Homo sapiens: one gene and its partners. The protein of the gene in region 1 interacts with the protein of each later gene in a pairwise test. Each region holds a gene or a part of one and is shown in the gene's direction. Other genes may lie near its edges.

Evidence for each region.
Region 2: the proteins of PTPRR (region 1) and RET interact in a two-hybrid assay, tested with the Homo sapiens proteins (one study listed by BioGRID and IntAct).
Region 3: the proteins of PTPRR (region 1) and ROR1 interact in a two-hybrid assay, tested with the Homo sapiens proteins (one study listed by BioGRID and IntAct).
Region 4: the proteins of PTPRR (region 1) and LMTK2 interact in a two-hybrid assay, tested with the Homo sapiens proteins (one study listed by BioGRID and IntAct).

The regions. Positions count from the first base shown.
Region 1 is NC_000012.12:70,910,265-70,918,362, reverse strand, and holds part of PTPRR (receptor-type tyrosine-protein phosphatase R isoform 1 precursor), read left to right. Parts: intron 1-8,098. UniProt on the Homo sapiens protein: Sequesters mitogen-activated protein kinases (MAPKs) such as MAPK1, MAPK3 and MAPK14 in the cytoplasm in an inactive form.
Region 2 is NC_000010.11:43,079,654-43,087,751, forward strand, and holds part of RET (proto-oncogene tyrosine-protein kinase receptor Ret isoform a precursor), read left to right. Parts: intron 1-8,098. UniProt on the Homo sapiens protein: Receptor tyrosine-protein kinase involved in numerous cellular mechanisms including cell proliferation, neuronal navigation, cell migration, and cell differentiation in response to glia cell line-derived growth family factors (GDNF, NRTN, ARTN, PSPN and GDF15).
Region 3 is NC_000001.11:64,133,333-64,141,430, forward strand, and holds part of ROR1 (inactive tyrosine-protein kinase transmembrane receptor ROR1 isoform 1 precursor), read left to right. Parts: intron 1-4,036; coding exon 4,037-4,164; intron 4,165-6,776; coding exon 6,777-7,094; intron 7,095-8,098. UniProt on the Homo sapiens protein: Has very low kinase activity in vitro and is unlikely to function as a tyrosine kinase in vivo. Receptor for ligand WNT5A which activate downstream NFkB signaling pathway and may result in the inhibition of WNT3A-mediated signaling.
Region 4 is NC_000007.14:98,109,057-98,117,154, forward strand, and holds part of LMTK2 (serine/threonine-protein kinase LMTK2 precursor), read left to right. Parts: intron 1-8,098. UniProt on the Homo sapiens protein: Phosphorylates PPP1C, phosphorylase b and CFTR.

The DNA.
Region 1 (8,098 bases):
GCAAGATACTATTCATTGTATTCATATTTAATATAGTAAAATACATTGGTGTTTTATCACAGCAGATTGTAAGTTTAATATTATAGTTCTCTTGCCAATTTCATTTTAAATGCATTTTAATTTTAAACAGCAATTTGTGGGTCACAAGCTGTCATCAGATTAAAATTTATCACAGTTATCTAATAACATTGTTAGGGCTTTTCATCAGAACTAAAACAAACACAGCTCCTTGGTCTAAGCTTCTATACATTTGGAGATTAAGAAAATAAGTGGATGGGATGACAAAGATCAAGAAATCAAGATATTAATCTCTACTTGTTGAAGGTGTGAGTTTGTTACTTTTATGGAAGACTTTTCTCTCAGAACAGAGGCTGACTTCATAAAGAAGGGAAATGAATTCTATACATTCAGGCCTCTTTAACTGTAAAGCTAATTGATCCATTTTGGTTACGCCCAGGGTATCAGCAACTGCTTTATGCTGGTGGAACTGATGACACCTTATAATGCTTTAGAGATGGGAGGAATGTGCTAACGGGATGTAAGTGTTCTTTTTAGCTATATTAGGAACTGTTGCCTTCAATATAACCATGCCTGTAATGATAAGTAGCAAACTGCTTGCAACTTGAGTGCCATCTCCCATTATTTTGCTTATGGTTGCCTAAGACACCATCGGGGGGAAAAAGAAGATTATGACTCGCATTCTGGCTAGGGAGAAGTACTGTGGTCTATAATAGCTGTGGGAGAAAAATGAGGAGTGGGTACCATGCTGTGTAAGTGGCATCTCTGGGTAAATTAACACTAAAGGATTACTAAGCATGGTTCTTGTTAGAGAAGCTGGACACTACTCTACCCATGGCAGCCGATTTTTATAGATCACCTAACAAGGAAGTTGTGGTTATTGTCCATCCAACTGCTTATTTTACAGGTGAGAAAATGAAGATCTAGAGTATTAAAGTGGTAGTTAATAGCATAGTCGGGATAAAAGCCCAGGTTTCCAGACCCGTGGTTGCATACTATATAAAATTATACACTGGTTCTACAATAGGTGAGGCCACCATTGATTAAGTTAGTGGTGCAAAATACTTTTTACCTAACTGTCCTTATTCTTTACTCTTTCGTGAACCAGTTTAATATATAAACTCCAGTTGAAAATACCACTTCAGGAATATTCAAGGAGGCAATTAAAAGCCACCACAATAATACGAATGGTAAAAAAATATTATGTGGAAGATCCACAGAGCTTATTTTCTTCAGCATTTCTCCTCTTCCTTTGTCCAAAGAAGCATATTCCATTTGAGGAGATATTATTTATAGTGTTGTATTTTAGTTGCAAAAGAGTACATTTTTGAGATATATTAAAAATTCTCATGTGAAAGCTTTCTTTTTCCTAGGGAATGTTTTGCTAACAAAATACAGAAACTGATTTCAATCCATTGCTTTCTCTTTGAGTTCTGGAAAAGGTTCTTTCAAATTTCTGTGTTGTTCTTGCTATCAGCCTTTTTGAATGGCACAAAGACTGCCTTCAATGTATCTCCTGAAACTATCTCTTCACTCTCAGAGAAGTGCATAGTCAATTTCCTTAGACTCTAAGAAGAAAGGTATTCTATGATAGTACCAAGAAGATCTGGGAGGTGATTTGCAGAAGTACCACCCTCAAAAGAAAGGATAGACTAACAGGTAAATGATATATTTTAAGATTTTAAGATGTTCCTTAGAACTCCAGAATTTGTTTTTCCTATTGAAAATCTCTCAGAGAAGTGCATAGTCAATTTCTCTAGTCTCTGAGAAGAAAGGTATTCTATGATGGTGCCAAGAAGATCTGGGAGATGATTTGCAGAAGTACCACCCTCAAAAGAAACGATAGACTAACAGGTAAATGATATATTTTAAGATTTTAAGATGTTCCTTAGAACTCCAGAATTTGTTTTTCCTATTGAAAATCACTCAATATAGACCTTACAATGGTCTAGAGTCTCTCTCCACATTATTTCTATGATATTATCTCTCACTACTTTCTTCTTTTTTTACCTCTCTCCAGCCATATTTATCCTTCTGTTTCTAGAAGATGCCAGGCACTCACCCTTTCATACTGTTTTGCTTTTTTCTTTCTCCAGGTGTCTCCACAGCTTAATCCCACAATAATTTTAGAACTTTAATTAAATATTACCTTGTTAATGAGGTTATTCTATTTCATATTTCATTTTCCCTTCCCCCCATCACCCAGATAAAAATTCTAGCACCCTTTCCCTGCCTAACTTTTCTTTCCCCAGAGGTCTTCACCACCCAACATACAATATATTTTACTTTTTTTATTGTAGTTTCCCCTCTCTGTATTAAAATGTAAGCCCATTTAGGGCACATATTTTTGCCTGTTTTGTTTATTATTGCATGTATTAGAGGTCTTGGGCTACCTAGTACCTGGGGGCAGTTCCTGACATAAAATCTTTCTAAAGATTAAATAAATAAGTTAAATAAATAATGTAATACAGTGATATTTCTGGTCTCTTCTTTTTGCATTTAATATCTTCTTAACACCCACAAAAAACACACATAGTCCACTTAGCCACTTCTGGAATGGACTTAAACAGCTCATTTGTCCAAAACTCATGTTGCCTCACATGCCCCCAAAACACACTATCTCTAACAGATTTTGCTGTCATTGTGAACTGAAGGGCAATAAAGGATGGGTTTGTGTTAGACCAGAACTACTAATCAACTCAGTGAAAAAAGTCTTTCAAACTGATTGCCAGATATTGTGCAGCCCAAATTCTTTGCTGATTGGCTACATTTTCACTTCTCAGTGAAATGCCTTGTACATGTAGGAATGGCTACAGGGATCAGCTGATTTACAAACAGAGAGTCTAATACACTAGAAAAAACTGATTTGCTTCTTTGGTACTTAAGAGACACAGGAATATGTATATTGGAGATGACATATTTCTAGCACCTCCAATAGAATAGCACCTCACATATTCCATTGAAAATCACATCCTACCTAACACCTTGTAAAAATTCTGGGATGCATTATGCACATTCAGCCTTTTCTTCTTTATTTCTCACCTACTTCTCTATCAGCTTCCGTCCTCATCCTATCATCCTATGGTTGAACATAATTAAAGAGGTTATTGTAATGTATGTTCTTGTTATCAATGCATTTCTATAGTACTTATATATTTTGACCCCTTTCTGAATTTTAAAATTTTTCCTCACTTGACTTCCACAGACAGTCATTACTTCCTAGCTTCCCTCTTATTTCTCCAGCCATTTCTCAATTTGTACTTTTAGGTCTTCTGCTGTGTATTATTTAATGGTTAGTGCTCTCTACAGCTTGTCATTGATTTTTTGTTATTTTTCTCTGTATACAATCTCCCTGGATAATTATACTCAGACTTGCACGTCAAAGATTCCAAAATCCACATTTCCATCTCAGTTATCTCCCCTGAACTCTGGTTCTATATTTAAAATTACCTAGAAGTCATTGTATATTCCATAGTAATCTTTTTGTTTTTGTTGTTGTTGTTGTTGCTGTTGTTGTTGTTAGAGACAGGGCCTCACTCTGTTGCCCAAGCTTGAGTGCAGTGGTGCAATCATGGCTCCCTGCAGCCTCGACCTCCTGGGCTCAAGCAGTCCTCCTGCCTCAACCTCAGAGAGTGCTGGGATTACAGGTGTGAGCCACAGTACCTGGCCCCACAATAATCTTATATACAACTATTTTTACTCAACACTTCTCAACACAATTACTCTGATAAATATTCCCTAACATTGTGAATAACACCAGGATTCTTCACAATGACCCAGGTCTGAAACAAATAATTGATCCTAGATCATCCCTTTGCTACTTTCATCTTAAAGGTTTCAAACTCTTCTCATAAGATGTTCTCCACTCTCCATGATCATGTCACTGCCTTGAGACAGATCCTTATTTCTCACATAATATCTTGTGATGACCTCCTATCAAATTTATTCTTTATAATAATGTCGGAGGTGAAACTCTTAAAAGCATACCTGATCATATTCTTTCTCCAAAAAATTCTTTAATACAGCTATCTCCTTTTCTTTTAGAATAAACTCCAAACTCATTAGGAAGGCAGTCTTTTGCGATGAGGTCTTCTCATCTTGCCCTCCTTTGCACACTAATATCACACTAAGACAAAATTTCCTTTGGTTTGCCATGTCTTGAATCATTTCACATACTGTTCTATTTCTCTTAAATACCAATACTCTGCTCCTTTTTTTAGATGACTCTTTCTCCAACTTCAAATGTTGATCAGGCATAGCCCACTTTGAGAATCTTCTTTTTTTTGGATGACTCACCTCATTCAAGTAGCTCTCCTACATTTCCCTTTTCAATCCTGTATATTCCCCTGTCAATGTACTTAACCTGTATACTGAAGTTTTTTGAGAACAATAACACAATTGCAGCTTTATTTCTATATACTTATTCCCTAGAACTATGCTTGTTACCTAATATGGCATCAGTAAGTGTTCAATGAATGAATACATATATTAAATATATTTGTTAAAATGAATTGTGATAAATTAATTTACATTGACCAAGAGATTATATCTCATCTTCATGACCATAAAGAAGGTAATTGACTTTACTACTGCCACCTTAGTGCAATTTACACTTATTGACAACAAGGAAATGGAGATGGGACAGAAAATTTTCTATGTAAATACACTCCATAAGATAAGTTTGTGTCCCATGGGCATGATGCTATTTGTAGTGTACTTGTGTGCTGAACTCTTTCTAGATGGATAGACATTCTTGCATGATTTTCCAGTACTACTTAAGAATAGAATGAGATTTTTTTTTTACTTTAAAGAGCTCAAAGAGTTAGATAAACAACATAGCATGATAGTTGTCCACTACAGAATGGACCCGGAACTCCTAACCCTGATTACTGATTGGTTATTATCTACCTATAGCAAATACAAGACATTTACACATTCAAAATCAGGTGGGAGTGTGAGACAGTGGCTTCAATAAATCAAGACCAAAAATTATTCAACCCTCCTTTTCTCTCTGAATTAAAAACCAAATCATCACACAAAATGTCTGAATATTTGAGTGGTTGTATACATTTTTTCTCTCATTTTGTGTGTATACAGTCTTTATAGAACCATAAAGTTTTTGGATCCCACATATTTTTTCTCATAGAAGACATTCTTACACCTGAAGAATGGAGACTATTTTGTGAATTATTTAAAAATCGCTTTATGTGAGATGATCAGATCACAAATCAAAAGCCCATTCATTGCCATTAGTATTAGAGATAACACGGATGTTATATTTTATGGCAAGTTTATTGTTAAATCTTAAAAGTTGTTCTGTGAGTCAAATTCAAAAGCTAGTGAAAGCCATTTTTTCCTTTAAAAGGGGATTTGAAAGATTCTACTTGGCCCATGAGTGCATTTTTCATCTTCAAGGCATTTACAAATGCTGACACACTTAGAGTAGCATTGATGTTTCCCAACATAAAGGATGTTAGTAGTTTCGAAAAATAAAGATGTAATGCTAAAATATTATTTTAAGATCAAATTTCCTAATGCTTATGTACCATATAATGTAACTATAAGTGCCTACTATAGTAATGATATTTGCCACAAAAGGACAATTAGCAAATTTATATTATAAACATTAGCACTTTCCACTTAAATCATTTTTATTCATAATGACTGCATAAACTTTCCTCATAATCAAATCTCATTTGATTTTAATATATTAAGATGTTGATGTCCATTAAAATTGCAGCCACATGGACCAACAACAAAGCAAAACTATTATTTATATTATGCAGCAGTCTAGAACTTAGCAAATGCCAAGTTCATTGGGGACATGAATTATTTTTTCCTATTTCTATTTTATTTTTTATTTCCTTTTTTTCAGATCTAAAGCAATGTCCATTTTCTGACTTAAATGAGAAGACTGGCCTCAGGCAGTCCTAAACTACTGATTCTTTGGAAAGGAGCATTTAATGAGCACAGAGTAAAAGCATCTCACAGTGATTCACTGGACTGTACAGCAATATGTACAGAGCAAGACTCTACAGCTATTTCACTGTACTAATGATCCAATTCCTGAGGCATACTGGAGAGAAAAGGAAGCAATAAATGCACAGAATCAGTTCACCACTGGGTGACTTTCACTTATCTGGGAAAAATGATCAAACATAATATCATAGTGAGTTAGTTAGGTTGAAAGACCATCAATCCATTAATGTAAATGTATGGCTTTCAATCATAAGCAATTTAGTTTCTTTGTCTTCTTGATTCAAGGTGGTATTTTTAAAATTCTCCCTGAAGAAAATAAAGTAGCTTAAACAGAAGAAAGGAGAAAATTTAAACAAGGGGAAATGTCATGTTTCTAGATAACTTTTTAGCAGAATTCCATAGTAGTTGAGAGTTAAGTGGGATAATATATCCAAACTTGCAGTCTTAGAGAGTGTCATAGAAGTGTTAGGCATTACGTGATTAGACTAAGGAGATGATAAATGGTTAATTGTACCTTGGAGGAATTTCTTATTCTTTTTATGTTTATGCCAATACTGGGTAAGCATACACACCTAGATACATTCTGGATTCTGAGTGGTTTTTTTTTTTTTTTTTCAGTTGAGCCTTTTCTTGATAGTTTTCATCTGTATGCTATAGGCAGGAGCCTGACCATATGTGCAGGTTTGTAGTGGACTATGAAGCTCGAAAATATCTACCTCCCTGCAGATATCTCTCCCAATGCCTTTTCTAAAAGTTTCATCTAAACATGAATTCTAGCATCATGTCTTCAGCAAGTTCTACTTAAATGAATGTGAAATAAAAATTTCTCTTGGATATGCCTGATTGTGACTGAAAATGTGTAACATTTACATAAACATCATAAATCTGAAGTGCCTAGTTCCTACTGCACTGCCTTGCTTAGCAGGCAGTCTAGACTTGTCCTAGGATACATCTTCCTAATTAATCCCTCTAGGGACCCACAAAGGGTGAAAAGCTCAAGCATGGACGAGGGATGCTGCTCATAGGTCTATAGGCTTCCCATCTGTTGTCTACTCCTCTGGCCATCCTTCTTCTCTACTGACCAACTGATACTATCCTATTTACCATTTGTAGCCCATGGAATTTCTAGACCATTGGGCTGTAGGTCCATGTGGAAGGCTGCCTGTGGTTCTGCAGACACCAGCCAAGACAGGGGTGTTTGAATGTAAAGGGATAGAAGGAGGGGCATGGGTATGGGAAGAACATAATGGAAAAGGTCACATGCAGCCACAACCTATTCATTGAACTACTCACCACTCCCCTAAAACCCAGGCTACTCAGCTGACCCTGCTTTTCCAGGACTCTTCTCGCTGCTGATTTTACCTCAGGTGACCTATTATTTATAGCTTCAGTTTGACTCCCTTGGAGACCCATAGTTCACAAGAAAACTCAGAATTCAGTTATAGAAACTTTTTCATGATGCTTCACTTCTCTATGCAAATCCAGAGACACATCTGGCAGCTCTTTCAGTGCCTCTGAAAATTTCATGACATTTAAGAAGCTCACTAGGGCAATTCACATGAGTCCTCACAAGCCTGGTCCCCTTGGGCATTTGGGCATGTCTCTTGGCATTGCTGGGAACCTCTGTACCTCTAGAGCATCAGGATTTCCCATCAGGCATTCATTGGTTACTTTTGATTGTTTTATTTCCTCAAACTGGGAATGCCTGATATTTAGAGGGCTTAAATTATAAATTTTATCATGTTATTTGTAACTCCTAAATCTGAGCATTAACTGAAGCTACAGAAACATAATAAAAAGTCTTCCTCTCAAGACAAGCATTGAATTTCATATGGAAAAGACAAATAGATTTCCTTTTAAGACAGGAAGGAGATAACAAATGAGTATTTCCTAAATCCCTTTGATGTGCTAAACTCTACCCAAGGTGCTTTTGTAAGATAATTGCCTTACCTTTTAGGATTGAAAAATGTTTTGAAATGGCATGCTTATACTTCAGAAACAACAAAAATATGCCTTAACTCATGTAGTACAATAAAAACAAACAAACAAAAAAACATTTGGGCTCTAGGATTTGACTACCTGAGTTCGAATCCCATCTTCT
Region 2 (8,098 bases), on another chromosome or scaffold:
TTGCAGCAAGGAAGGACATTCCCTCTCTGCCCCTGGGCCCCGGGGCCTTCTGTTCCCAGCATGGAAGAGCTGGGCACTGTGACTTGGCAGGGCCCGGATCCAAGCTGCCAGACCACCCTCTGCAGAGGGCCTAGGCAGCCCACCCCTGCCTGAAGCACCAGGTATCAGCGCGGGCAGCTCAGGCCAGGGGTACAGCTCCCCCTGCTTCATCCTTTTCCTTCTCCCCTTTCTCTGGCCAGAGGCTTCACCAGGTTCACCTGGGCCTGGCTTGCTTCCTCCTCCACTCCAGCTCACTAACCCTGTCTGGCCTCCAGAAGCTGCCTGCAGCCCTCACTGGTGGGCTGTGCCTGCTGGGGGCCTGCAAGCAGAGAGCAAATGGGGAAGTGCATTGAGCTGATTCACTAAATTGCCTTTCTTCTGCAGAATCACTTTAGGGACAGGCTGAGGAAATCACTGTTTCCTTGGTGGTGTGAAGAAAATGGGATGCGATCACCTAGCGGGGAGCTAATAGCCTTTTAGCCAGTGGAGGAGAAAACCAATTAAAAATTATGATATCTGTTAAAATGGAACCTGGGGTGCCAAGGGGAAGGGAAGGCCCGGAAGCTGCCATCTCCCCTGAGACCTTCCCCCTCTGCAGCCTGGCCGAAGACCCTCTAGGTCCCCTCGTCTTAACTGGATAAGGCTAATACCAGCAGTAGCACCCCATGGGGGCTCACAGTGCACTGCCCCTGTGCTGTGCCTACTCACTTCATCTTTTCCAACAAGTCTGCAAGGGTCATGGTCTTGGCCCATTTCACAGGTGAGGAAACAGGTTCTCATAGCCTATGGACTCGAACCGGTAGAGAGGATGCGGGAGCTCCCCAGCCCTGGCCCTCTGGCTTGCTCCAGCCCGTTCTCTGGGCCAGTGGTGTGGGTCCAGGGTGGGGCTAAGGAGGGCTTCCAGGGAGGTTGCCCTGAGCCTGCCCACCCACTGGTGAGTCCCCCCACCTCGGGCTCCAGGTGCCCTCAGGACATCCCAGCCCAGATCCCAGAGTAATGTGTGGCACCATGCACAGACGCTGAGATACTCTCTGGGTCTCGTCAGCTTTAGTTGATGTCTGGGAGTCCTATGGGTCTGGGGAGGAGCACCAGGCATGGCTGTGCCAGCAGAAGGGCCGACTGTGTGTGCTCTGTGGATGGCAGGAAGGCATCTTGCTGCCAGTGGCGGTGCAGATGTTCGGCTGGGACACCAGGCTGTGGCCCTTGCAGCCAACATATGCCTGAGGCCCTGGCATCGGATGGAAGCTACTGCTCTGAAGACAAGGGTGCAGGGATGGGGTTTGGGCATCAGGGATGGGGGTACAGCTGTGTTTCCTCATGCAGGACAGGGCCTTCCTCCTCATTTTTCCCATCCTCCAGGACAGCCTGGGAGAAGAAAGCCAGGGAATAGGGGCAAAGCAGGGTGCAGCCCCCCATGCTCCCTGCTGCCCTCCTCCCCTCCTGCAGAGGCACTTCCTTTCCACTTCAGGAGCCCCTCCCCCAGAAGTGGGCCCCCCCCATCCCCCCTTCCTTCTTTGGAGGCTGCTTCCTGGTGCCAGGTTATGCTCCCTCCCCGTTCTCTGCTGTGCCCTCTATCTCCCCACTCCTCTGCAATTATTTTTCAGCAGAGTGACTTAATAGTAACAATAACAGTAACAATAATAGTAACAACAGCAGGCTGGGAGCACTCCTGAGGGAGCCTCGGCTCCTGCCCTGCTGCTCTAGGGCTGGGGACTCTCCAGAGCTGTCTCATGGCAGGGAGAGACCGTAGTCAAGGAGACCCTGTGTAGGGACTTCCGCATGCGTGTGTGGCAAGGGGCGGGGACTGGGCAGTGACCACCAGGCAGGGAGCACACCTCAGTCATGGTCACAGAGAAGGTGATGATGGCACCAGGGCTGTCTCTCCGTGCCCGTCTGCACCTGGGCCTGCCAGAGCCGTCTTCTGTGCCCCATGGGGTAGGGGAGCACCCCATGGCCCCTGGGAGGCTGCCAGTCAGTGGGACTATGAGGTCAAATGGGGAGGTCCCTTGGGGTCCATGACCCAGGCACTGCACCCCTTGGGGCTGGAAGGGGAGAAGGCCCCAGGCCCACCAGAGCCCCTCTGGCTCCCCCACTAGAACAGCAGCCAGGGCCGGCTCAGGGATTGAGGCGAAGCCTTGGTGCTTGATTCTTTGTCCCCTGAGGCAGGCTGTACCTCTCATAGGAGAACTTTGGAGGACGGGCCTTCTCCTGACCAAGGCTCTGGGACACTTGGCAGCCCCTGAGGTCCTGCTTTACCTCTCTGCTTTCTCCCCCCTTCTCTGAGCTCTGGGGCCAGGCCTGGGCACTTGGATTGGCGCTGAGACAATGAGGCCTGAACCTCCATGGAGCTCTGGTCCCGCAGCTGTGTGATCATGGGGGCCTCAGGGACCCCGCTCCCCTCCATTCCCCAAGCCTAGAGGCCATGAAGCCTGTGGGTCCCTGAACTGTCCACCCTGAGACTGCAGGCAGGGCAGGGCTGGGCAAGAGCAGGCAGCAAGCTGTCCTTGTTCCCACAGCTCCTCCTGGCTGGGCTCTTGGCCCCTGAAAAGCCTGGGGCAGGGAGATGGTGCCAGCAGGACCTTAAGGACAGCAGTTCAGGTCGCACCTGGCCCTGGAGGGAGCAGGTGGCCAGCTCCAAGCAAACACCTCTGTTTGCTTTTGCCTCAAGGAGTGGCTCCACAAAGTGTAGCAGCCCAGGCACCACCACAGAAAGGTCACCGCTGCACCTGGACAGGTGTGCGCCTACCTGGTGGACCAGCGGGCATAGGCTTTCCTCCCTGATATCAGGGATACCTGGAGGGCCTGGTGCTGGGGCTCTGTGCTCAGGGGAGAACCTGTGGCCCTACAGCCCCAGGTTCTAGACCCCCTCCCAGATTCGGGTGCTGCAGCTGCGCTTCCACTCCTGGCCCTTGCTCCTCTGTGCTGCTGCTCTCCATGCCCTGCAGGAGCCAGGGTTCCAAGGAAGCACCTGAGGGGCAGTGTGGCCCCAGGGCAGGAGCAGGACAGTGGCCACCAAGCTGTTTCCAGTTCCCTTGTGTGCCTGTGACTCCAGAGGATTCTCGCCCTTGTGTTCCTGAGAGGGAAAAAGGAAACATGTATTTCCTAGAATTTAAGTAATGACTGGGGAGATGTGTGCTCTGGGTGCCGGGACGAGGGTGGGTGAGCTGGAGGTGCAGCATGAGCTGGTGCAGTTCTGGAGGGAGGGAGAGGGCTCATTGGGTTTCTTCCTCATACTACTTGGCAGTGCAACTGGCACAGACCCGGCAGCTGTTGCTGGGCTAGGGGCCAGGGGCTTCCTCTTGCTCTGTTCCCCTTCCTGCTCCACCACCATTGCCTGTAGGGCGTCTGCCAGCCCCAGGAAGCCTAACACTTAGCCCAAGTGGGGCTCTGGGCCTGGCCCTCCTCACCCAGGGAAACAACGGGGCTCATGGGCGCTTGGTGACATGGGCACATTGCTCTGCCATCGTAAGGGGCCAGCCTGGCTATGGGACCCAGCACCGGTGGGCAGCCCACAGGTTGTCTCTGCAGGAGACTCCTCTGGCAGGTCACATACAGGATGCCCCACAGCACCTTGAAAACTCGTGACCCGGGAAAGCCTCAAATTGTCTTTGCTCCCCTAGCCTCCCCACCACCTGTATATGCAGGGGCATGTGAGACTGTACTTGGTGACAGGAATGCCCCCCAGTCTCAGGGGCTTAACGCCATCTACTATGTCCTTCTTGTGGCATAGCCTGGCATGGCCCTTACCCACTGGGTGGCCACACCTCCCAGCCCTTGTGCCTGGCTATGTGCACAGGAGGGCACAGAGCTTCAAGAAGCCTGAGGCTTAAGGAGCTTTGAGGCCTGGGAGGGGGCCACCGTCACTTTCCCTGTGTTCCGTGGGATCCTGTCACATGGTCGTTCTCACCCCAGGAGGCTTCAAGTACAGAGGACGCGGGGATGGGGGCACGCAGGGGTGTACCTGCACACACTTCTGCCTACCAGCTCTCCATCCCTTGTCCTGGTCCACATAGCAGGGGCTCCTGGCGGGCCCAGCAGCTGAGGGGGACAGAGGGGGAAACAGGGTAGCAAATAATTATGGTTTACTCTTTTTTAATTGTGAAATTTGTGTAACATAAGTTTAACCATTTATAAGTGAACCATTTGGTGGCATTTAGCACATTTACAGCATTGAACAGGCATTGCCTTAGTTCCAAAAAATTTGCATCACCCCAAAAGGAAACCCCATACCCATTAAACAGCTGCTTCCTGTCCCCGGGCAACCCCCAGCCTGCGTTCTGTCTCTGCGGCTTGGCCTGTCCTGGAACATTTCATCTGCATGGACTGTTGTCTGGCTTCACTCAGCATAAGGTCTTCAGGGTTCCTCTAGGCTGTGGCACACATCAGCCCCTTCCTGTGAGGGGTAAATAGTGTGCCGTCACCCATTCATCTGGGGATGGACACGTGGGTGCTTTCCACCTTTTGGCAGTTATGAAAAATGCTGCCAGGGACATTCCTGTTATAAATACCTGAGTTCGTGCTTTCAGTTCTTTTGGGTACATACCTGGACATGAAATCGCTAGGTAATTCTGTTTTATATTTTGTGGAGCCGCCAAACTGTTTTCCACAGTGGTTGAATTGTGTTACATTCCCAAGGGTTACAATCTATCCACATTCTCACCACCACGCATTATTCTCTGTTATTCTCTGGTTCATGTCTCACTCTGGCCGTGCAGCCAGTGCACAGTGCTAGCTCGTTGTGGCTTTGGTTTGCCTTTCCCCGGTGATGGCGTGCTGGGCATCTTTTCCTGTGCATGCTGGCCAGTTGCATGTCTCTTTGGAGAAGCATCTCTTCGAGCCCTCTGCCTGTTGTCTAACTAGATGGCTGTCTTGCCATACAGCTGACTTTGCTGTTGCATCTGCATCAAGAGCTGCAGAGAAGCAGCTTTATCCAGGGCCGTCACTGTCAGTGATTGAGCCCCAGGTCCCTTGTGAGGAGAGTGTGGATTCGTCTGATTCCTCACATGGGCATTGAATCACCACTGCCCTCGAGGACCTTGAGGACATTCTCGGAAGACCTGGACTCTGAGGCCACGTTGAGCACCAACATCTGGAAACCATGGTGTCACTGCTTGTGCATAAGAAGGGGCCTCTCAGGAACCGCCCTGTGAAGGATGGAGGAAGGGGAAGGTGCAAGGAGCCAGCAGACCCCCACCCCACTGACAAGACGAGACTCAGCAGCAGGGGAACCAGGGCCGCCCTCTCTCGCTCATCCTGAACCCTGACTCTAAAAATAACCAGGCTGATAATCGGATCCGCTGTAAGTTGATTATCATCATTGCCGTGGTGTGATGTCATGCTGCCAGGCCCTGGGGCAGTTTTCTCAGGACAGCGGTGGATGCACCTAGGCAGCTCTGGAGGCCAGCATGGAGCTGGGGGGCCCTGAACCGAGGGTGGCAGGCAGCCTCTGTGGGCTCCTGCAAATCTGCTTGGTGGGGGTGGAACACTGGCATCCATAGGCAGGCACTCTGTGCTCCCAAGGAGGAGTTCCTGTCCCCATTCGCAGCTAGGGACAGAGCCAGGGAAGCCAAGTGCCCAGCCCTGGCAAACAGCGGGGAAGCACAGGGGCATGGGCTGGGCCGCTCTGCCCTGCGTTTCTGCTCCTTCCTGCTGCTGAACTCTCTCCTTTCTGCTGCTGAACTCTCTCCTTTGGACTAGGCCTTTGTCTTCTTGCCTCATCGTCAGTGGCCTGGGAGGACACTTGCAGTCTTAATCCTGTTTTGGCCCCATGTCCCTCACCCCCCAGGGGCCACCTAGGCCAGAGCCTGTCCTGATTTCCATCTCGGCCACCGTCTGCCCCTCGGCCCCTGGTCAGGAGCTCATTCTGTGGATACTCCTGCATAGACATCACGTGGACTCAAAGGGCATGAGGACCTCGGCTGAGAGGAGCTTACACATCAGTGCAAACCTCTCATTTTACACAGGGAGAAATCGAGGCCCTGAGGGAGGCGTGAGTTGTCACACATGGGGGTAGTGTCAGATGAAGACTTGGCACCACTTCCCTGGGCATCCCCTTCCCTGCATGGCATCCCCAGCCTTGGGTTTGGATTCTTCTTCACCCTTGATGTTGAGGTCTTTGCTCCCAGGACCTGGATAACAGCATCCAGATGCAGGTGGTGCCCCCGCATCGGGCTGCCTGGCTGTGACCTGGGGCATCAGGATTGTCAGCTTGTCTGGCCCCAGGTCTGTGCTGGGCTGAAACCTACTGTCTCAGAGGCTCCTGGCTCTCTCCCTCTGCTCTCCACTGCTCTTAAGAGCAGACCCTCAAGCCTTTTTTGTGTCCTCTCTCCAGGGAGAGCCCAGCTTCTACTCTGCAGCCCAATGCAGAAGGGGTGGTAGCTCACGGTGCCTCGGCTTCTCTGCATGCCTGTCACTGAACAGAGAAGCCCAGGCCAGACTGCAGCTTAATTCCTAGCCTCTGTGTGGCCTCCAGCAGGGTACCTAAGCTAGTGCTGCCTCATTTTCCTCCTGTGTGAGATGGGAATCCTCATGGTCCCTACCTCTGACAGTTGTTTTGATGCAGTGGGTGATGCAGATGAAGCGCCCGGAGCAGACCTGCTCATGAGGAGCACACCGTGGATTCCTACTGGTTAATGTTGAACAGGGATGAGAAGGGGCTGGGGTAGGGCGAAAATGGGCAAGACCATCTCAGCTTGAGGAACATGAGCTGACAGATTGACTTAAATTTGCACATGGACATGATCTGAGTCACTGCCTTGCTGAGTGCATGGGGACAGTTGCCCAGGCCAGAGGCACCAGGGTCAAAGCCAGTGGTGATGCCCTGGCCCCGTTGCCCCAGGCCAGGGCCAGTGAACAATGTAATCAGCTGGGGCAGACTCTACAGCCCTGCAGCCAAGGGGGCCAGTGACCCTTACATGGTCATCCACAGGCCACTTGGGTGGCCAGTCCTGTTCAGCCAGGCCTTGCCCTAGGAAAGAAATTAATTATAACCTAATTGGCAGTTTCCTTTGCATAGAAGCCGGAAGCAACTGCCAGTGAGGCTGGTGATTAACTCTGCAGCAGCTGGGAAATTGCAGTTGGGCAGGAGCGCCCATCATCCTGGCCAGGCCGCTGCAGCTGGTCTGGGTATGGAAGTGTGGGTGGTGGCCATCGTGCAGCTTAGGGCCTGGGCCCCTCAGAGCAGAAGGCTGGGTCTGTGTGCAGAAGGTAGCCTTGGGCTGCCAGGTCCCCCAGTGCCCAGTTGCGGACCTCCTTCTCCCAAACCTCAGCCATGCCTGGACCCCTTCCCCACTCACGGCAGAAGGCTGCATGGCTTTTAGGGGTGTCAGGAGGCTCATGTCCTGGTTGCAGTTCTACCATGGGTGTGCAGCGGGAATTCTGGGCTTCTGTTTTCTGGCATGGGATGGGGTGAATGATATCTCTGTTCTACAGCAGGGGCTCAGACTGGATGTGTGAGAAGAGCCTCAGTTAAGGAGGGCCATGTTCGTGCGTGCAGGGATCGTGGTGCCTCCCAGGCCAGGGCCGGGCCCCATCTCTCCTCCTCCTCAGCTGCTCTTCCAGCTACTGGCCACCCTGCCTGGCTGGAGGTCCAAGAGGAGAGGTATCTGAGGAGATCCTGCACTCCACACCGGGTCTCCTGCCCAGCATTTTGGAAGAACCAATTCTTAAGTCTGGTACTGAGGCCGCACTGCCATGATGATAACTGGTGTCACCAGGACACCAGGGAAGGAGCTGCCCTTGGTGTTTACTGAGCGCCCGGTATATGCACTGAGCTGTCCATCATCTGCAGAGACCAGTGTTTTCTTGATGGTTTTACAGAGAGATGCTTAAACCCAGTGAACTAAGAATGGGACAGGCTGTCAGATTTTTCTCAAAGGAGGTATTGACTTGTTAGCGGGTACAATTAGGCCGAGGAACCAGGGGCTGATGCAGTGTGCTCCCGAAGAGGGGCTTCTATGGACTCCAGTTACCAGAGCCTGCCCCAGGATTTTCCTTCACACCTGCTCTTTATGCCAGGGATCAAGCAGGGTTATAAATACAACAGCGGGCAGGATGAGCC
Region 3 (8,098 bases), on another chromosome or scaffold:
AAGAACTAGATTATGAAGTCTCTGCAGAACAGCATTTCCTTTCCTTGCTCTGCAGTGGTTCCTAGATGGGCACTCCTTTTGCTGCCGCACTGTTCCACGATCCCTCTTAGCACTCTTCAAATATCCTTCATAAGCTCCTTGCCCTGGAGAAGGAGGAGACCCTGGAGGTGGATTACAGACCACATTTGCGTTTCCCAATCCCATGGCAGAGAATATGGCAGGTTGTAGAGGCTGGCAACATGGTAACTCAATTACCTTTATGAGAAACATGAGCTCCCATCACAAAGCACCCCTGCACCTTGACATCATGGTGAGGCAGCGGCGCACGCTGGTGCCAGCCACTGTGATGAATGGCCAAATTCCATTTGCCCTTTCACAATGCACTTTTCTTCTCCATTGAATGCAGCCTTGGGCACGCTCACTGCAAGTGCCCTTGCACTTTTGCTACCTTGCCACTTGCTTCATGTTTTTAATTTGCTGAGCATGGAGTAAGGCAGGAAGACATCAATGATGAAAGAAGTGTGAGCTGGAAAAAAGCATAAAGCTGATTAATGCTGGAGGAGCATTTGTTCCCCTCCAGCCAAAGCCAGTGGGGAAAAATGGAAAAGAAAGAAATGTGTTTTTGACTTTATGTTTAAAAGAAAACCTTTTACCACCCAGAATGCACCAAAGCTTCTCCACAGCAGAAAGCCCCTCTAAGCAGTGCAAAAACTCCATTGCCAAGCCACTTGGAAAGAAGTTATAGAGTGTGGTTAGAAACACTATTTAGAGCAAATCTAGCTCTTCTACTTGCTGCGTAACTTTGGATAAGTTCTCTATGCTTTCTGAGTCTCACTTTTCTCATCTGTAGAACAGGAATAATTACATCTTTACCTTTTTTTATAAGATTGTTGTTGGGATAAAATGACTTAGTATCTGTTTTGTAAGTATATAAAACTTAGCAGTATCTGATACAGAATCAAGACTCGTTATAAGGTCTCTTTCTCGAGTAGGCTGATTTAACTAAGAGTAGTATTGAAACGCAGAACATAGTTACAGATCTAACAACATGGGATAGTGGCCTCATCTTGAGTTTCAGTTTAAATCCTAGCTCCACCACAGACTGACTTTGTGAATTTGAGCAAGTTACTTAACTTCTCTGAATTTGAGTTTCTCTCTCGTAAAATAAGGATAATAGCTCATCAGGGGCTGCTTTGAAGAAAGCACCTAACACAGTACCCAGCCCAGAGCAGCAGACACTTAATACATGTTTGGTTTTTTTCAGTGTTGTGGTTCTCAACCACATTCAAATCACCTGATAGGTTTCTTTAAGCATAGATACCTAAGCCTCATCCCCAGAGACTATGATTTAATAGGTCTAAGGTGGGGCCTGGGCATTCGTATTTCCTAAAGCTTCTCAAGGAGATTCTTTCATTCTTTTTTTTTTTTTTTTTTGAGATGGAGTCTCACTCTGTCACCCAGGCTGGAGTGAAGTGGCATGATCTTGGCTCACTGCAACCTCCACCTCCTGGGTTCAAGTGATTCTCCTACCTCAGCCCCCTGACTAGCTGGGATTACAGGCACCTGCCACCACACCCAACTAATTTTTGTATTTTTAGTAGAGATGGGGTTTCACCATGTTGACTAGGCTGGTCTTGAACTCCTGACCTCAGATGATCCACCCGTCTCGGCCTCCCAGTGTGCTGCCAAGGCGATTCTCATAAGGAGCCAAGACAGAACCACTCCCCAGCAGATAACAGTACATACTGGTTTTGGGGTTTTTTTGTGTTCTTTTTTAAAAAATCTGTCTCCCAGGAGACTGAACAGGATAGTAGGAATTCTGGGAATAGTCAAAAATTTAATACACCTGCAGTTCTAAGCCTTTGATAAGAAATGTGCAGCCAAGGAATTGCATTCCATTTTATTCTGAAAAAAAGTATTCAAAGAGTCTTTTTAAGAGTCTTGAACTGGAAAGGTGGTAAGAAGTTTAGCCTAAGCCTCACACATAAAATATGGGAACTCCCAGTAGGTTGGGGATTTATATCTGGGGGTAATTCCAGGGTTTTGTCCTCCCAAGAGATATAAATTGAAGCCTTGAGAGTTTAATGTGGGGGAGAAAGAAGTGTTCTCATAATGACACCTTAAAAATCCAGGGCTCTGCTAATGCCTAGGGATAGAAAAGCATCATCTGTAATAGCAGGGGGGTGGCATGGGGGTGTATTCTGGTCTCTGTACTTAGGTTTCCAAGATCCAAGTGTGGGTCATCAAGAACCTTCTTTCTCCCCATAGGTTTATGGTATTAGTTACCCAATAAAAGTTGGGTTAATTTTACAACCCAAGTAAAATTTAAGCCAAAAAGGCTTCAGCATTACTCTAGGATTTATGAAAGTAAACATGTGGAGTGCTTGCAGGATTGTGCAACAGTAAAATTTCAATGTCTTTATGTCAGGTATATGATATATTCATTTGTATGTGTATTTAAAGGTTAAGTTTTTAAGAGCTTTGCAACACAAACTATTTTCAGTACTAAACTGAAGATACTTCCCCCACTTTCACCTTTAAAATGATTCTTTTAATGAATGGGAGTAGAGAGAAGCAGAAAATTAGTGTCCTATCAGGTGATTTTTCCACTTGGTTTGCTCCTATACTTTGACTTTCTAGACTCCTACGCTAGACCTTCAAGCTGGGAAGTGAGCACCACAGCACTAACCGCAGTGCCTCTTACGATGTGGGAGCTTAGTAAATAACTGTCTTTTAAATAAATGTCCCTTTGGTCATTGTAAATACTTTAAGAATAGCCATATATTATCTCTACAATTTAAAAAAGCTTTTACATTATCTGATGGGATCATAATGACTTTCCCATGTAGGGCAGAGAAGTCAGTTACTGTGTCCAACTTGTAGATGAGAAAATTGTGGCTCAGAGGGCTCAGACAGCTTGCCTAAGGATGCCCAAATGTTAAACTCAGGAAGAGAATTTTGTTCTCCTGACTTTGCTCTGAGGGATTTTTACTTAGAAGAAACCAAAGGGGAAAAACGGTGTATTTTTTTTTTTTTTTTTGAGATGATATATTGAGGAGGAGCATCCAGGGTTGAAGTCAACTTATACACGTGGCAGGCAGACTTTGGTTTGGCTATGGTCTGCCTTTGAGAAACAGCTGGATGTTCTGCACTCGAGGGATCTTGTGCTCATCGTAGGCCCTCGTGGGAGATGGTAGCCTCTGCCCTTTCAGGTTGAGCCTGCCATCTTGGGTCTTCATCTCCAGCCTTAGATCTCCAGTCCTTTTACCTGGCACATGAATCATGTCATTTCTGGTGTCCCTCTGTCTTCAAGATGAAATCTATTACCCCTCCTTATAAAAAAAGTCTTATAATTTTGAGGCCGCAAAATTTTAATAAGACTATTTTTTTAAATTGTAGAGAAGCATGAAAGCAAACTTTCCATGGACATTTTCTCTAGATTTCCTTGGATTTAGTGACTCAATTCAAACTCTCCAGACTATGGTTTGCCCTGGTCCTCTTTGGGCAGGGTAGAGATAATGGAGGTTCAGCAGTGAAGAGTCACCTAACTGGGCTACCCTCGGGTTTCTTTCCAGCTGCACCCAGCTTCTCACCCCATGGATCCCCCTAATTGACGTGTCAGTTGGAGTGGATCTGTTCGCCCACGCCTTTGTAGCAAATGAAGCAGAAATAATCTGTGCTTAAAAAACAAAAAACTGTAGAACATGTGCCCAGATTTCCAACTCATTTCCTCTTTACTCCTATAACTACATCATCTTCCAGCCCACCACCAGCTGCGAAAATAAAAGCATTTTCTCCCATATTTAAGGATGATTTTGTGCTTCAGGATGACTTTCTGGGGGTGTAGGAAACTTGACCAATGTGACCAACAGATGTTTTAAGAACTGAGCAAAAGCCCAATTCCTTAGCCCAGTCTTTTGTATATTGTGCCCAACTGTGCCCCCTAGTGACTATTTAGGGTATCGCGCAGTCAGAGCTTGCTGTGCCCTGTATGTATGTGGTGCATCAGCTAATGTCTGTCTATGCTTTCTTTCAGAGATGAGTATGAAGAAGATGGATTCTGTCAGCCATACAGAGGGATTGCATGTGCAAGATTTATTGGCAACCGCACCGTCTATATGGAGTCTTTGCACATGCAAGGGGAAATAGAAAATCAGATCACAGGTAGGTAGCACCAATGAAATTATATTTGTCCCTTGAATAACTATTTTTCTCGCCAAAAGTTTTATTGAGCTCCTCTCTTGACAAAGGATTAAGCTCAGCATGGAGGTTGGGAGCAGGACCATAAAAAAGCATGAGACATGATCTCTGTGCTCTGGAATTTACATTAAAGTAATTTATTGAAGGTTGCTCTTAGAGGAAAAGGAAGCTTTGTGAAATCTCACATTCATTCAAACACTCAATAAATATTATTAAGTGCTTTCACCGTACCAGGAACTGAATCTGAATGGGAGAGGTGATGGTGTGTAAATAAGCCAGGTACGTCTCTGCCCTCACAGAGCTTACTGTTTAGAAGCAACATGATGTCGACTGAGAGGGGATGAATTTAGAGTTTAGAGTTCTGGACACTCATCCCAGAACTATTATGACAGTGAACTTTGGGGAAATCGCTTACTTTCCCAAAAAGTCCCCTTCTTCATCTGTGAAATGAGTGATGAAGCAAGATGACCATTGGTCTCTTCTTGCTCTAGCTTTCAATATTTCACTCTTCATTTTTCTTAATTGAAAGTATCCTTTTGATAGAAATCTAATAGCGAAGCACTTACTAGCACACATGAGTTAAAGTAGCATAGGCTGCCTCATAGGATTTTGCACGCATCGTTCTGGTGGTTACAGCAGCTTTGTCCCCTTCCATTAGTGTAGTTATGATGCCTCTGTGTCACGTATCCTTTGCAATCCATTCACATTGTCTTCATGACATTCTAATGAGGTTGCCATATCTAGCAAATAAAAATTCAGGATACCCAGTAACATTTGAATTTCAGATAAACAACGAATAATTTTTTAGTATAAGTATGTCATAAATATTTATCTGAAATTAAAATGTAACCGTTGTCTTTTTCTTTATCTGGCAACCCTAGGGTCTAGGAGAGGTAAGAACAAACCCAAGGCAGAAACATAGAACAGCAAAAGGCCCAGAAGCTATGTGGAAGCTATGTGCTATGAGGAATGTGAAGGAACTGAGAGGAGGCTGGGGGGAAGAGGGAGGAGGACTTTTTTTTTTTTTTTTTGAGATGGAGTCTCGCTCTGTCACCCAGGCTGGAATGCAGTGGCGCGATCTCGGCTCACTGCAAGCTCTGCTTCCTAGGTTCATGCCATTCTCCTGCATCAGCCTCCTGGAGGACTTTTTAACCAACCAAAAGAAGCAACTGTAGGAATAGGTAGTTGCCATTTTCTGAAGCCCTCATTTCAACAGGAAGAGAATTCTGAAATTTCAAAGAGCAGTAAGACTGACAGGGAGGAGCTGTTAAACACCCATTTCAACCTAATGTAAGAATGCCTTAATGTACTTTTAACTGAATATCCACAAAAGCAAGTAGACATTTTGGGCCAGGCACAGTGGCTCACTCCTGTAATCCCAGCACTTTGGGAAGCTGAGGTGGGCAGATCACTTGAGGCCAGGAGTTCGAGACCAGCCCGGCCTACATAGCAAAACCACATCTCTACTAAAAAACAATACAAATATCAGCTGGGTGTGGTGGCACATGCCTGTAGTCCCAGCTATGTGGGAGGCTGAGGCATGAGAATCCCTTGAAACTGGAAGGCAGAAGTTGCACTGAGCTGAGAGCGTAACCCTGCACTCCAGCCTGGGCGACAGAGTGAGACTGTCTCAAAAAAAAAAAAAAAAAAAAAAAAAAAGTGGAAGTTTTGATGTAAATAATTGGTAACCTATTTATAAAAATCCTCTCTTGGAGATTTCTAATGGGTATCAGCCTGGTGGAAAGTTTTTTTTTAAATTCATTTACCTTTGTTTATCCCAGCGTTTCCCAAACTTGTTGGCTTGTTTCTCAAGCACTATTCTATTTCACATGATTAATGTTCTGAGCAACATACTTGGGGAAATAATGTATCAGCAACCTCCTAGGTTTCCTTGTGAGGTGTAAGCTCCTTGTCAATAGCGGTATTCAAAGGTAGGCTGGTGCGCTTTTTGTGCATCTTACCCTACTAGTAAGAGATTAAGCTAAGGAACCACTAATATTCGATGATACACATTGGAACAATTGTACTGTGCTCTTTGAGAACTTCCAAGTGAGTTGCCTCATTTTCAGAAGATGGAGTAGAAAGTATTCCAGCCACAAAGAAATTAAGCAAGTTACCCTAAGTCATCCAGCAACTCTTGCCGTCCAGCAAGACACAGAACTGGATCCTGTGCTCAGGCTCAGCCACTGCGGAAACAAGTTCTGTCCCTACAGCTGTCAAATGTTTTAGAAGCCTCACAAAACTAATAAAAAGCACCAGATGAAACACAAAGTTCGATTGCTTTGTAGTAAAAAATGAAAAATATATTGTACTTTAACTTAATTAATTTTTTTATTAGGAAATGGTACATATGTAATTTAATCCTGTTTTATTAACTTTGTAGTCAAAATGGTTTTTTTCAAGCCAGTGAAAGTAAGCTGCTTAGACATCTGAAATGAATCTCCTTCTCTGGGCCTTGTCTGTTTCAGCACGGCGGATTCCTTGCAATGTGTGTTTATATCTGATATCCGTTGACTAGATAACCAAAGAAGATAAACCCTGGCCTCTGGGAGTTAATAATTGTGTTTGTTTTCCAGCTGCCTTCACTATGATTGGCACTTCCAGTCACTTATCTGATAAGTGTTCTCAGTTCGCCATTCCTTCCCTGTGCCACTATGCCTTCCCGTACTGCGATGAAACTTCATCCGTCCCAAAGCCCCGTGACTTGTGTCGCGATGAATGTGAAATCCTGGAGAATGTCCTGTGTCAAACAGAGTACATTTTTGCAAGATCAAATCCCATGATTCTGATGAGGCTGAAACTGCCAAACTGTGAAGATCTCCCCCAGCCAGAGAGCCCAGAAGCTGCGAACTGTATCCGGATTGGAATTCCCATGGCAGATCCTATAAATAAAAGTAAGTGGTAGCCCCTGACCTTCTGTGCTCTTCTAAGGGTCAGCAACCTGTTGGCACAGGGAAAACTGGACCTTGACCCATAGTGATTTTCATACTGTTAATCAAATTATTTTCCAATGGGCTGAGTACTGTGCCTGAGCATTCAGTGGTGGATTAGACATAGTTATCTTCAAGAAGCTTCATGAAGACAATAATTTTAAAATATTGGAGCTGGTTTCTCAATAACTTAAACATAGAATTACTATATGACCTAGCAATTCTACTCCTGAGTATGTAATCAAAAGAACTGAAAACAGATGTTCAAACAAAAACTCATATGAGAATGTTTATAACAACACTATTTACAATAGCCAAAAGGTGGAAATGACCCAAATGCCATCAGTAGAGGAGCGGTTAAACAAATTGTGGTATATCCAGACAGTGAAACATTATTTATCCATAAAAAGGAATGAAATACAGATACGTGCTACAAACCTGGATGAACCTGGAAAACATTATACTAAGTAAAAGAAGCCAGACACCATTGTATGATCCATTTATATGAAATTTCCAGAATAGATAAATCCATATAGACAGAATTCAGATTAGCGGTTACCAGGGGCCAGGCTAGGGGTAGTGGAGAGTGATTGTTTAATAGATATGGGGTTTCCTCTTAGGGTAATATAAGTGTTCTAGAACCTATAGTGGTGAAGGTTGTACAATATTGTGAAAGAACTAAATAAATGCACTAATGGTACATGTAATGGTAAGTGTATTATAGCATGTATCAGTACATTCTCACATTGCTATAAAGAAATACCTGAGACAGGGTAATTGATAAAAAAAGGAAGTTCAATTGGCTCACGTGTGGTTCTGCAGGCTGTACAGGGAGTATAGCAGCTTCTGCAGAAGGTGAACGGAGAGCAAGCTTCTTACATGGCAGGAGCAAGAGAGTGAGTGGGGAAGTGCCACATGCTTTTAAACGGCCATGAGAATGAGAACTTACTATCCCAAGGACAGTACCA
Region 4 (8,098 bases), on another chromosome or scaffold:
CATCATCTTGGCCAGGCCGGTCTTGAACTCCTGACCTCGTGATTCACCCGCCTCAGCCTCCCAAAGTGCTGGGATTACAGGCGTGAGCCACCGCGCCTGGCCACCTGTACACTTCTTACACGGTTTTTATTCCATTCTTTTACAATTTTATGGTGTCATGAATTATAAAATGAATTTTGTTGGGGTGTTGTAGAACAAAGCAATCAGAAAAGTTAATCTGTAAATAGAGATATCAAATCTTGACATACATATAGCATAAGGAAATATTTGGTAATTTGTAGCAACTTTTGCTACAAATTTTCCTTTCATATTCTGATCTTTGTAGGATAGGTGTATATGTTTTGACGTGTTGCATATGAATAATGGGTACCTAGGGTTAAAGTCTGTGGAAAAGACGCACAGTCAGGCCGGGAGCAGTGGATCACACCTGTAATCCCAGCACTTTGGGAGGCCCAGGTGGGTGGATTGCTTGAGGTCAGGAGTTCGAGACCAGCCTGACCAACATGGTGAAATTCCCTCTCTACTAAATATACAAAAATTAGCCGTGCGTGGTGGTGGGAGCCTGTAATCCCAACTATTTGGGAGGCTGAGGCAGGAAAATTGCTTGCACCCAGGGAGCGGAGCTTACAGTGAGCCGAGATTGTGCCACTGCATCATAGCCTGGGCAACAGAGTGAGACTCCGTCTCAAAAAAAAAAAAAAAAAAAAGAAAGGAAGATGCACAATCAGACATAGATATTCAGGGGCTTGTCTCTCCATCCAAAAGAGTTTATTGATCCTCGTTAGCTGAGGTGGGTTCTTGACCAAGATATATTAGACCAAGTTTAAAAAAAAACCTTTAAGCTAATCCTGACTAGTGAGCTCGCTGGTTAAAAAAGAGGAATCCCGCTTGACCATGTATGGTAGATAAAAGAGCAGTTACACGCCAAAAACCTAACTAAAGCTTCTGGTAATCTAGGAGCCTGCACTCCTTGTGAAGATAGAGCTAGACACTTTCAAATAAGGATAGACCCATTTCATAGGGTCTTTCGCCTCCTTGTTCTTCTTTCTGCTTGAAGCCTGATCAGTCTATCCAGTTTAATGGTGCCTTAGAGAAAGCATGCAGTTAACTGAAATTCAGCTTTTAAACTGAAGATCATTTATCTATGGTGTCTTCATCATCTAGATTCATTGCTAGACTCAGAAGCTGAAAAAGATATTTTCTTATTCAGTCATAATAAAGCTATGTAAATATATAGATTGCACTTGCCCATCAGGCAAGAAGGCATTTCTTGGTTGAACTTTATTTTGGGCCTCTTCTTTGAGCTGGGATGCCGTTTTGCCCCCTACGCCCGCCCCGTCTAGGAGCCTCTTTTCCTGAGAATCTGTGTTTCTGTAAGGGCCCTTGTTGTTATGTAGACTAAGACTTGTTGGTCCTCTCTAGGAAGCTTTTATGTAAAGGGAGAAAGTTCACTGTTTTCACACCCAGTTAAATTGCCAAACTAAGATTACAGTTCAGTTCTTTTCCCCAGATCATAGTTATCAGATCATTCTTCTCTTAGAAAACATGGATGCGCCTTTTCTAAGATTCTCAGGATTCACATCATAAACGGGGACTAGAAATAAAGAAAGATCTTGTATATGTGAACGAATTTCTCTAAGCTCACACTTTCTTATTAATATTAGGATAGTGGTGAGACAAGGAAACCCAGTTCTATTGTTCTGCAGCATATTAGGTCACAGAGTACAGAGGAAGCTTTTAGCAGCTCCAGATAAAGGACCTCACGGAAGCCCGTGAAGCCAGTGGGACTCAGCTACTGATTAAACAGCAGCTTGTGAAACCGAGCCTCTCGTTTTAGATTAAACAAACAGACTTGTATTTTGAAAAAGATTTCTAAAGTAAAGGAAATGCTTTCTAAAGTATGAATTACTGTGTTTAACAGCCTCTGGGAAAATTATTTTCAACAGGCTTTCTATGCAAATTATTTTAGGATTTATAGCTATAAATCTTGAAATTTGATTTTGGTTGGGATTGCTGCAATTACTTTTACTTGGTGATATTTTGGGGTTAACTAAATATGCTCATTTGAACAGTAATAGGAAGTCCGTCTGCAGTTTTGTAGCTGATTAGCACTGAAGTTATCAAATCCTTACAGTTTTGCTGATAATCAGTGTGCTGAGTGTTCCTGCAAATTCTCTTAAAAATTTAGAGTCCTTGGGCCCTCTCTGGCCCCTGTGTATTGTGTCACTTAGATAACAGCTGTAGATATAATTTTAAAAAGACACTGTCATATAAATAAGGGACGTCCAGGGTTCTGAAACAGTAAACAAATGAGTCCTCAAAAAAGTTCTTGTAAATGGACATATAGAAATAATCCAACTTTTTCGTTTAGTTGAGAGTAAAATTCATGAACCAATCCTAGCTGGAACAGAGTGTTGTAGGAAGAGCTTGGGCTTTGTAGTGAGATCTGGGTGTGAAGCCTTGGCTGCCGCTGGAATAGCTTAAGGACCCTGGGTCAGTTACTCGACCTCTGGGCTTAGAACTCCATCATTAAAAAGGGTGGCAATGACAATATTTACCCAAAGGGTTGTGGGGGGCACAGTGGTGTACCCTCTCACACTAGATTGCTTCATTGTTTCAGATTTCTTTGTAAATTTGGTTATCATCAAATTGACTAATGGCAGGTGGTATGGCATCAAAGCAGGAGCTCAAAGTGGTAGCTGCGTAACATGGCATGTCTAGAATTTACTGGATTTAAAAAATCTTTGTTGCTCAAAATAACTTTTTTATGGTGGATGGAGATGCTTTAGAGAGAAATCTGGTTTATTTAAGTCTAAGCTGGTATTGTTACTACTTGAAATTCGTAGTGTTGGAGAACTATGCTGGAAATTTTTAGGATCATCTGGGTTAGTCTGCTTTTATGTAATAAACCTGTTTTTAAAGTGGAAGATGACTAAAGCTCTTGCATGTGAACAGATGCTGATTTTAATTTATTTAAAGGAATCATGAGCACTTGAAAGTTTTTCTTGATCTTAAACACAATTGTGTATTGTCATGAGGCATCCCTGATTAACCCAGGTTGTAGTAGAACAAGCCCAGAGCTGATGCTTTCTCTTAGAAACCAGAGAGATGAATGTGACTGACGTTTTTCTTTCTCCCTCTCATTTTTCTTTTTTTTAAGAGACAGGATCTTGCTCTGCTGCCCAGGCTAGAGTGCAGTGGTGCGATCATAGCTCACTGCAACCTCCAACTCCTGGCCTCAAGAGATCCTCCCATTTCAGCCTCCCAAAGTGCTGGGGTTATAGGCATGAGTCACTGCACCAGGCAAGACTTGGTTTATCTGTAAAACGGAGAGAATAGTTACAGTCTTGTGAAGGTCCAAACCTGTGTTGTCTAGTACAATAGCCACTAGCTCCCTGTGGATGCTTAAATGTAAACGTTTTAGAACGAAAGCTTCAGTTCTTCAGTGGCACTGGCCACAAGTTAAGGGCTTGATAACTGCAGGTGGCTGGTGGCTACGGCATTGGACAGCACAGAAGAGAACTTCCCATTATGGAAAAAGGTTCTGTGGGACAGGGCTGGTGTGAGGCAGGTACAGTGCCCAGTCCTTGGTTAGGACATGTAAGGCCAGCTGTGATTATAATTATGATCATGATCCTGATTCTTCGTGAACTCCCAAATCTAGGCCCATTACAAGGGTGAGGGAAGTGAGAAGAGGGCTTTGAAAAAAGAAAGAAGAAAAGACAAAATAATTGTGGAGTTTTTGCTGGTGAAGAGATGAGAACTGAGGTAGCACAACCTCAGCTCCCCACTGCAGAACAGAAGAAAGAGACTTCAGGGAAAAACAGTCTTGCTCTGTCACTCAGGCTGGAGTGCAATGGCACAATCACAGCTCACTGTAGCCTCAAACTCCCAGGCTCAAGCAATCCTCCTGCCTCAGCCTCCTGAGTAGGTGTGTGTCACCTACAGACACTTACCTGTAGGTGTGTGACTACAGGTGTGTGCCACCATGCCCACTTTATTTTTTTGTAGAGATGGTGATATGGTTTGGCTGTTTCCTCACCCAATTCTTATCTTGAATTGTAGTTCCCGTAATCCCCATATGTCGTGTGAGGAACCCCATGGGAGATAGTTGAATCATGGGGGTGGTTACCCCCATGCTATTCTTGTGATAGTGAATGAGTTCTCACAAGATCTGATGGTTTTGTAAGGACTTTTCCCCCTTTGCTTGGCACTTCTCTCTCCTGCTGCCATGTGACGAAGGACATGTTTGCTTCCCCTTCCACCGTGTTTATAAGTTTCCTGAGGCCTCCCCAGCCATGTGGAACTGTGAGTCAATTAAACCTCTTTCCTTGATAAATTACCCAGTCTTGAGCGATTCTTTATAGCACTGTAAGAATGGACTAATACAGCTGGCGTCTCACTGTGTTGCCCAGGCTGGTCTCAAATTCCTGGCCTCAAGTGATCCTCCTGCCTCAGTCTCCAAAAGTGGTAGGATTATAGGTGTGAGCCACCGCACCTGGCCCTTTCTCATTTAAAATCATGTGCTTTTATAGTCGACTAGCAGTGCTTTATTACTGTTTTAAAACTTTGTATTTACTAAAATGAGGGAAGGAATATTCTCGGAGGAGATGCTGGACAACCATCTCTGATCTAGAAGACTGCTCCCTCTAGGGATTTTAGATTCCATTATCAGCTTTTCTTTGAATCTTCTTATGAAGATACTGTTGCAGAAAACTGGGGAAGTTATGGTAAAATTAGCATGTCTGCAGAGCAAAATATTGGATTGATGTCTTTTAAAATTGTAGCAAGTGGCTAATTCGGAGCCCTGCCTTGGCATTACAATTGTTTGTCACAAAGAGCAGGCATATCAGAAAAGTAACCTCATTATTAAATTCTTTTTTTTTTTTTTGCAAAAGTTAGCTCAGTGCAGTGATTCCAAATGTCATTTATTGTATTGTGATTCAGGTGGGAAAAGTGAGCACTATTTATGCCAGATGTCTCAGGTACCCGCAGCCACAGCATTGATCAGTATCTTTCATTTTCTCTGCCTTTTTTTCCTTCCCCAACCACAAAAGAGTGACTCTGTATTCCTCTGCCCACCTGGGCCTTTGGTAGGAGGGGGTGGTGGTGGTAAACCTTCTGTTTAATTTTTGACAATTTGGTAGGTAGGTTTTGCATTTTATTATATGTGTTTTTTTAAAGTTTTTTTTTTTTTTTTTTGAGACAGGGTCTTGTTCTGTCACTCAGGCTGGAATGCAGTGGTGCAGTCATATTCACTGCAGTCTCTACTTCTTGGGCTAAAACGATCCTCCCACCTCAGCCTCCTGAATAGCTGGGACTACAGGTGGATACCACCATGCCTGACTGATGTAAAACATATTTTTTCTATAGAGATGGGATCTCACTATATTGCCCAGGCTGGTCTCAAACTCCTGGACTCAAGTGATCCTCCCACCTCAGCCTCCCAAAGTGCTGGGATTACAGGCATGAGCCACTGCACCTGGGTAGTTTTAATATTTTAAAAGGCTTGAGTTACCATCAGGTCAAATTAGGTGTGCAGGACCTTGTGCTATGGCTAAAGTAGCCCCTGTCTCCCTGCATCTGGTGAAGGGAGACGGTCGCATCGGGGTGTCTGCTGCAGCGCATCTGTTGTTGTTCCTGCCTCCACCCTCCACAGCACTTTTTTCAGAGCTAACTTGATCTGCCTATCGCTTGCAAAATATTCCATGCAAATTCCCATCTTCTGGCTCTCCATATATTCTCCCTGTTTGCAATTGCCTCTTTTCCTGCTTCTGTAAGTGCTGCCATCTTTTTATTTTTTTTAAAACCTCTTTGCGGACCCACCTTCCCTACTGAGTTATTGATCCTGGCCCAGCCCTTAGAGATTCCTTCCCTTGGTGAACTTGAGAGTGTATACCTGTGGAGCAAGATGTTTCATGGGGTGCCAGACGAAAACATTGGAACTGATGTTTATTCTCATTTCATCCTCTTAAAAGGTCAACTTATGTGATGTTTTAAGGTATAGAATGTGTGGTACACTAACACATTTTTTGATTTATAAATGACATGGGACGGAAAGAACATAAAATGTACTGCCTGGGTACAGTGGCTCATGCCTGTAATCCCAGCACGGTGGGAGGTCGAGGTGGGTGGATCACGTGAGGTCAGGAGTTCAAGACCAGCCTGGACAACACGGAGAAACCCCGTCTATACTAAAAAACACAAAAATTAGCTGGGTATGGTGGCACACTCCTAAAGTCTCAGCTACTCAGGAGGCTGAGGCAGGAGAGTCGCTTGAACCCAGGAGGCAGAGGTTGCAGTGAGCCGAGATCATGCCATTGCACACCAGCCTGGGCGACAGAGCGAGACTCAAAGAAAGAGAAAAAGAAAGAAGAAAGAAAGAGAAGAAAAAAAGAAAAGAAGGAAGGGAGGGCGGGAGAGAGGAGAGAGAAATTACTGCTGGCTGAAATCAAGAAAGGTTTGGTTTTGGGCCGGGTGCTGTGGCTCACACCTGTAATCTCAGCACTTTGGGAGGCCGAGGCGGGCGGGTCACGAGGTCAAGAGATTGAGACCATCCTGGCCAACATGGTGAAACCCCGTCTCTACTAAAAAGTCAGCTGAGTGTGGTGGCGGGCACTTATAGTCCCAGCTACTCAGGAGGCTGAGGTTGAACCCGGGAGGCGGAGGTTGCAGTGAGCTGAGATCGCACCACTGTGCCCAGGCCTAGTGACAGAGCAAGACTCCATCTCAAAAAAAGCAAAAAAAGAAAGGTTTGGTTTCATCATACCAGTCTACTACTTGCACTTAATAAATACCAAATACCACTTTATATCTTCATATCATTGGTTTTTTGTTTGTTTGTTTAAGAGACAAAGTCTTGCTCTGTTGCCCAGGCTGGAGTGCAGTGAACTGTCATGGTTTACTGCATCCCTGAACTCCTAGGCTCAAGCAGTCCTCCCATGTCAGCTCCTGAGTAGCTGGGACTATAGGCGCATGTAACCATGCTTGGCCAATTTTTACTTTTTGTAGAGATGGTCTACAAAAGTAAAGTTGCCATGTTGCCCAGGCTGGTCTCAAACTCCTGGCCTCAAGCAGTCCTCTGGCTTCGGCCTCCCACGGTGTTGGGATTATAGGTGTGAGCCACAGTGTCCGGCCTACATCATTGTTTAAGTCCTGTCTCTTTACCTAGTTTGCAAGGACCGTGTCTTATATCCTTGGGATAGCACATTTTTGGGATTGGTGTTTGGATGGTATGTCACAGGTTGTAGATGCTCTGTCAGCATTTGTAACTGAGGATGATGAAGATGATACTAGAGAACTAAGTTCTCCAAACCAGTACCTCAGTGTGTGTCTGTGTGTGTGTGTGTGCATGTGCGTGTGTTTGTGCGTGTGTGTGTGTGTTTGTGTCCGCGTGTGTGTGTGTGAAGGAGAGGGTATGAGCTGAAGCCTCTCATTCTCTTGCGGACTTGACTTCCCATGCAGCCACAGACCTTCACCTGGGATGAGGCCATTTATAGTTTTTTTTTTATTAAAACCTTTTTCTTTCACAACAATTTTAGATTTACAGAAACATTGCAAAGATAGTACAGAGTGTTCCTGTGTATCTTTTACCCAGTCCCTGTTGTTAACATCCTATATTAATGTAGTACATTTGTCACAACTAAGGAACAAGTATTAATATATTGCTATTAAATAAGTCCACAGCTTGTTCAGTTTCTTTAATATTTCTCTAGTGTCTTTTTTTCTCTTCCAGGAAACCACATTACATTTAGTAGTTATGCCCCTTGGGCTCCCCCAGTCCATTCCTTGTTTAGAGTGACCTGGACAGCTTTGAGGAGTACTGACTGGTCAGATATTTTGTAGAATGTCCCTCAACTGGGATTTGTCTGATGTTTTTCTCACGATTAGACTGGGGGTGTGGGTTTCTGGGAGGAAGACCACAGAGTTAAAGTGCCATTCTCATCACATCACATCAAGGGTGTGTGCACACAACATCACACAGCATGACTTGTCACTTGATCACCTGGCTGAGTAGTGTTTGTCAGCTTTCACCCTGTAAAGTTACTCTGTCCTCCCCTCCCCATGGTGTACGAGTGCAGGGTCAACACTTAATGAG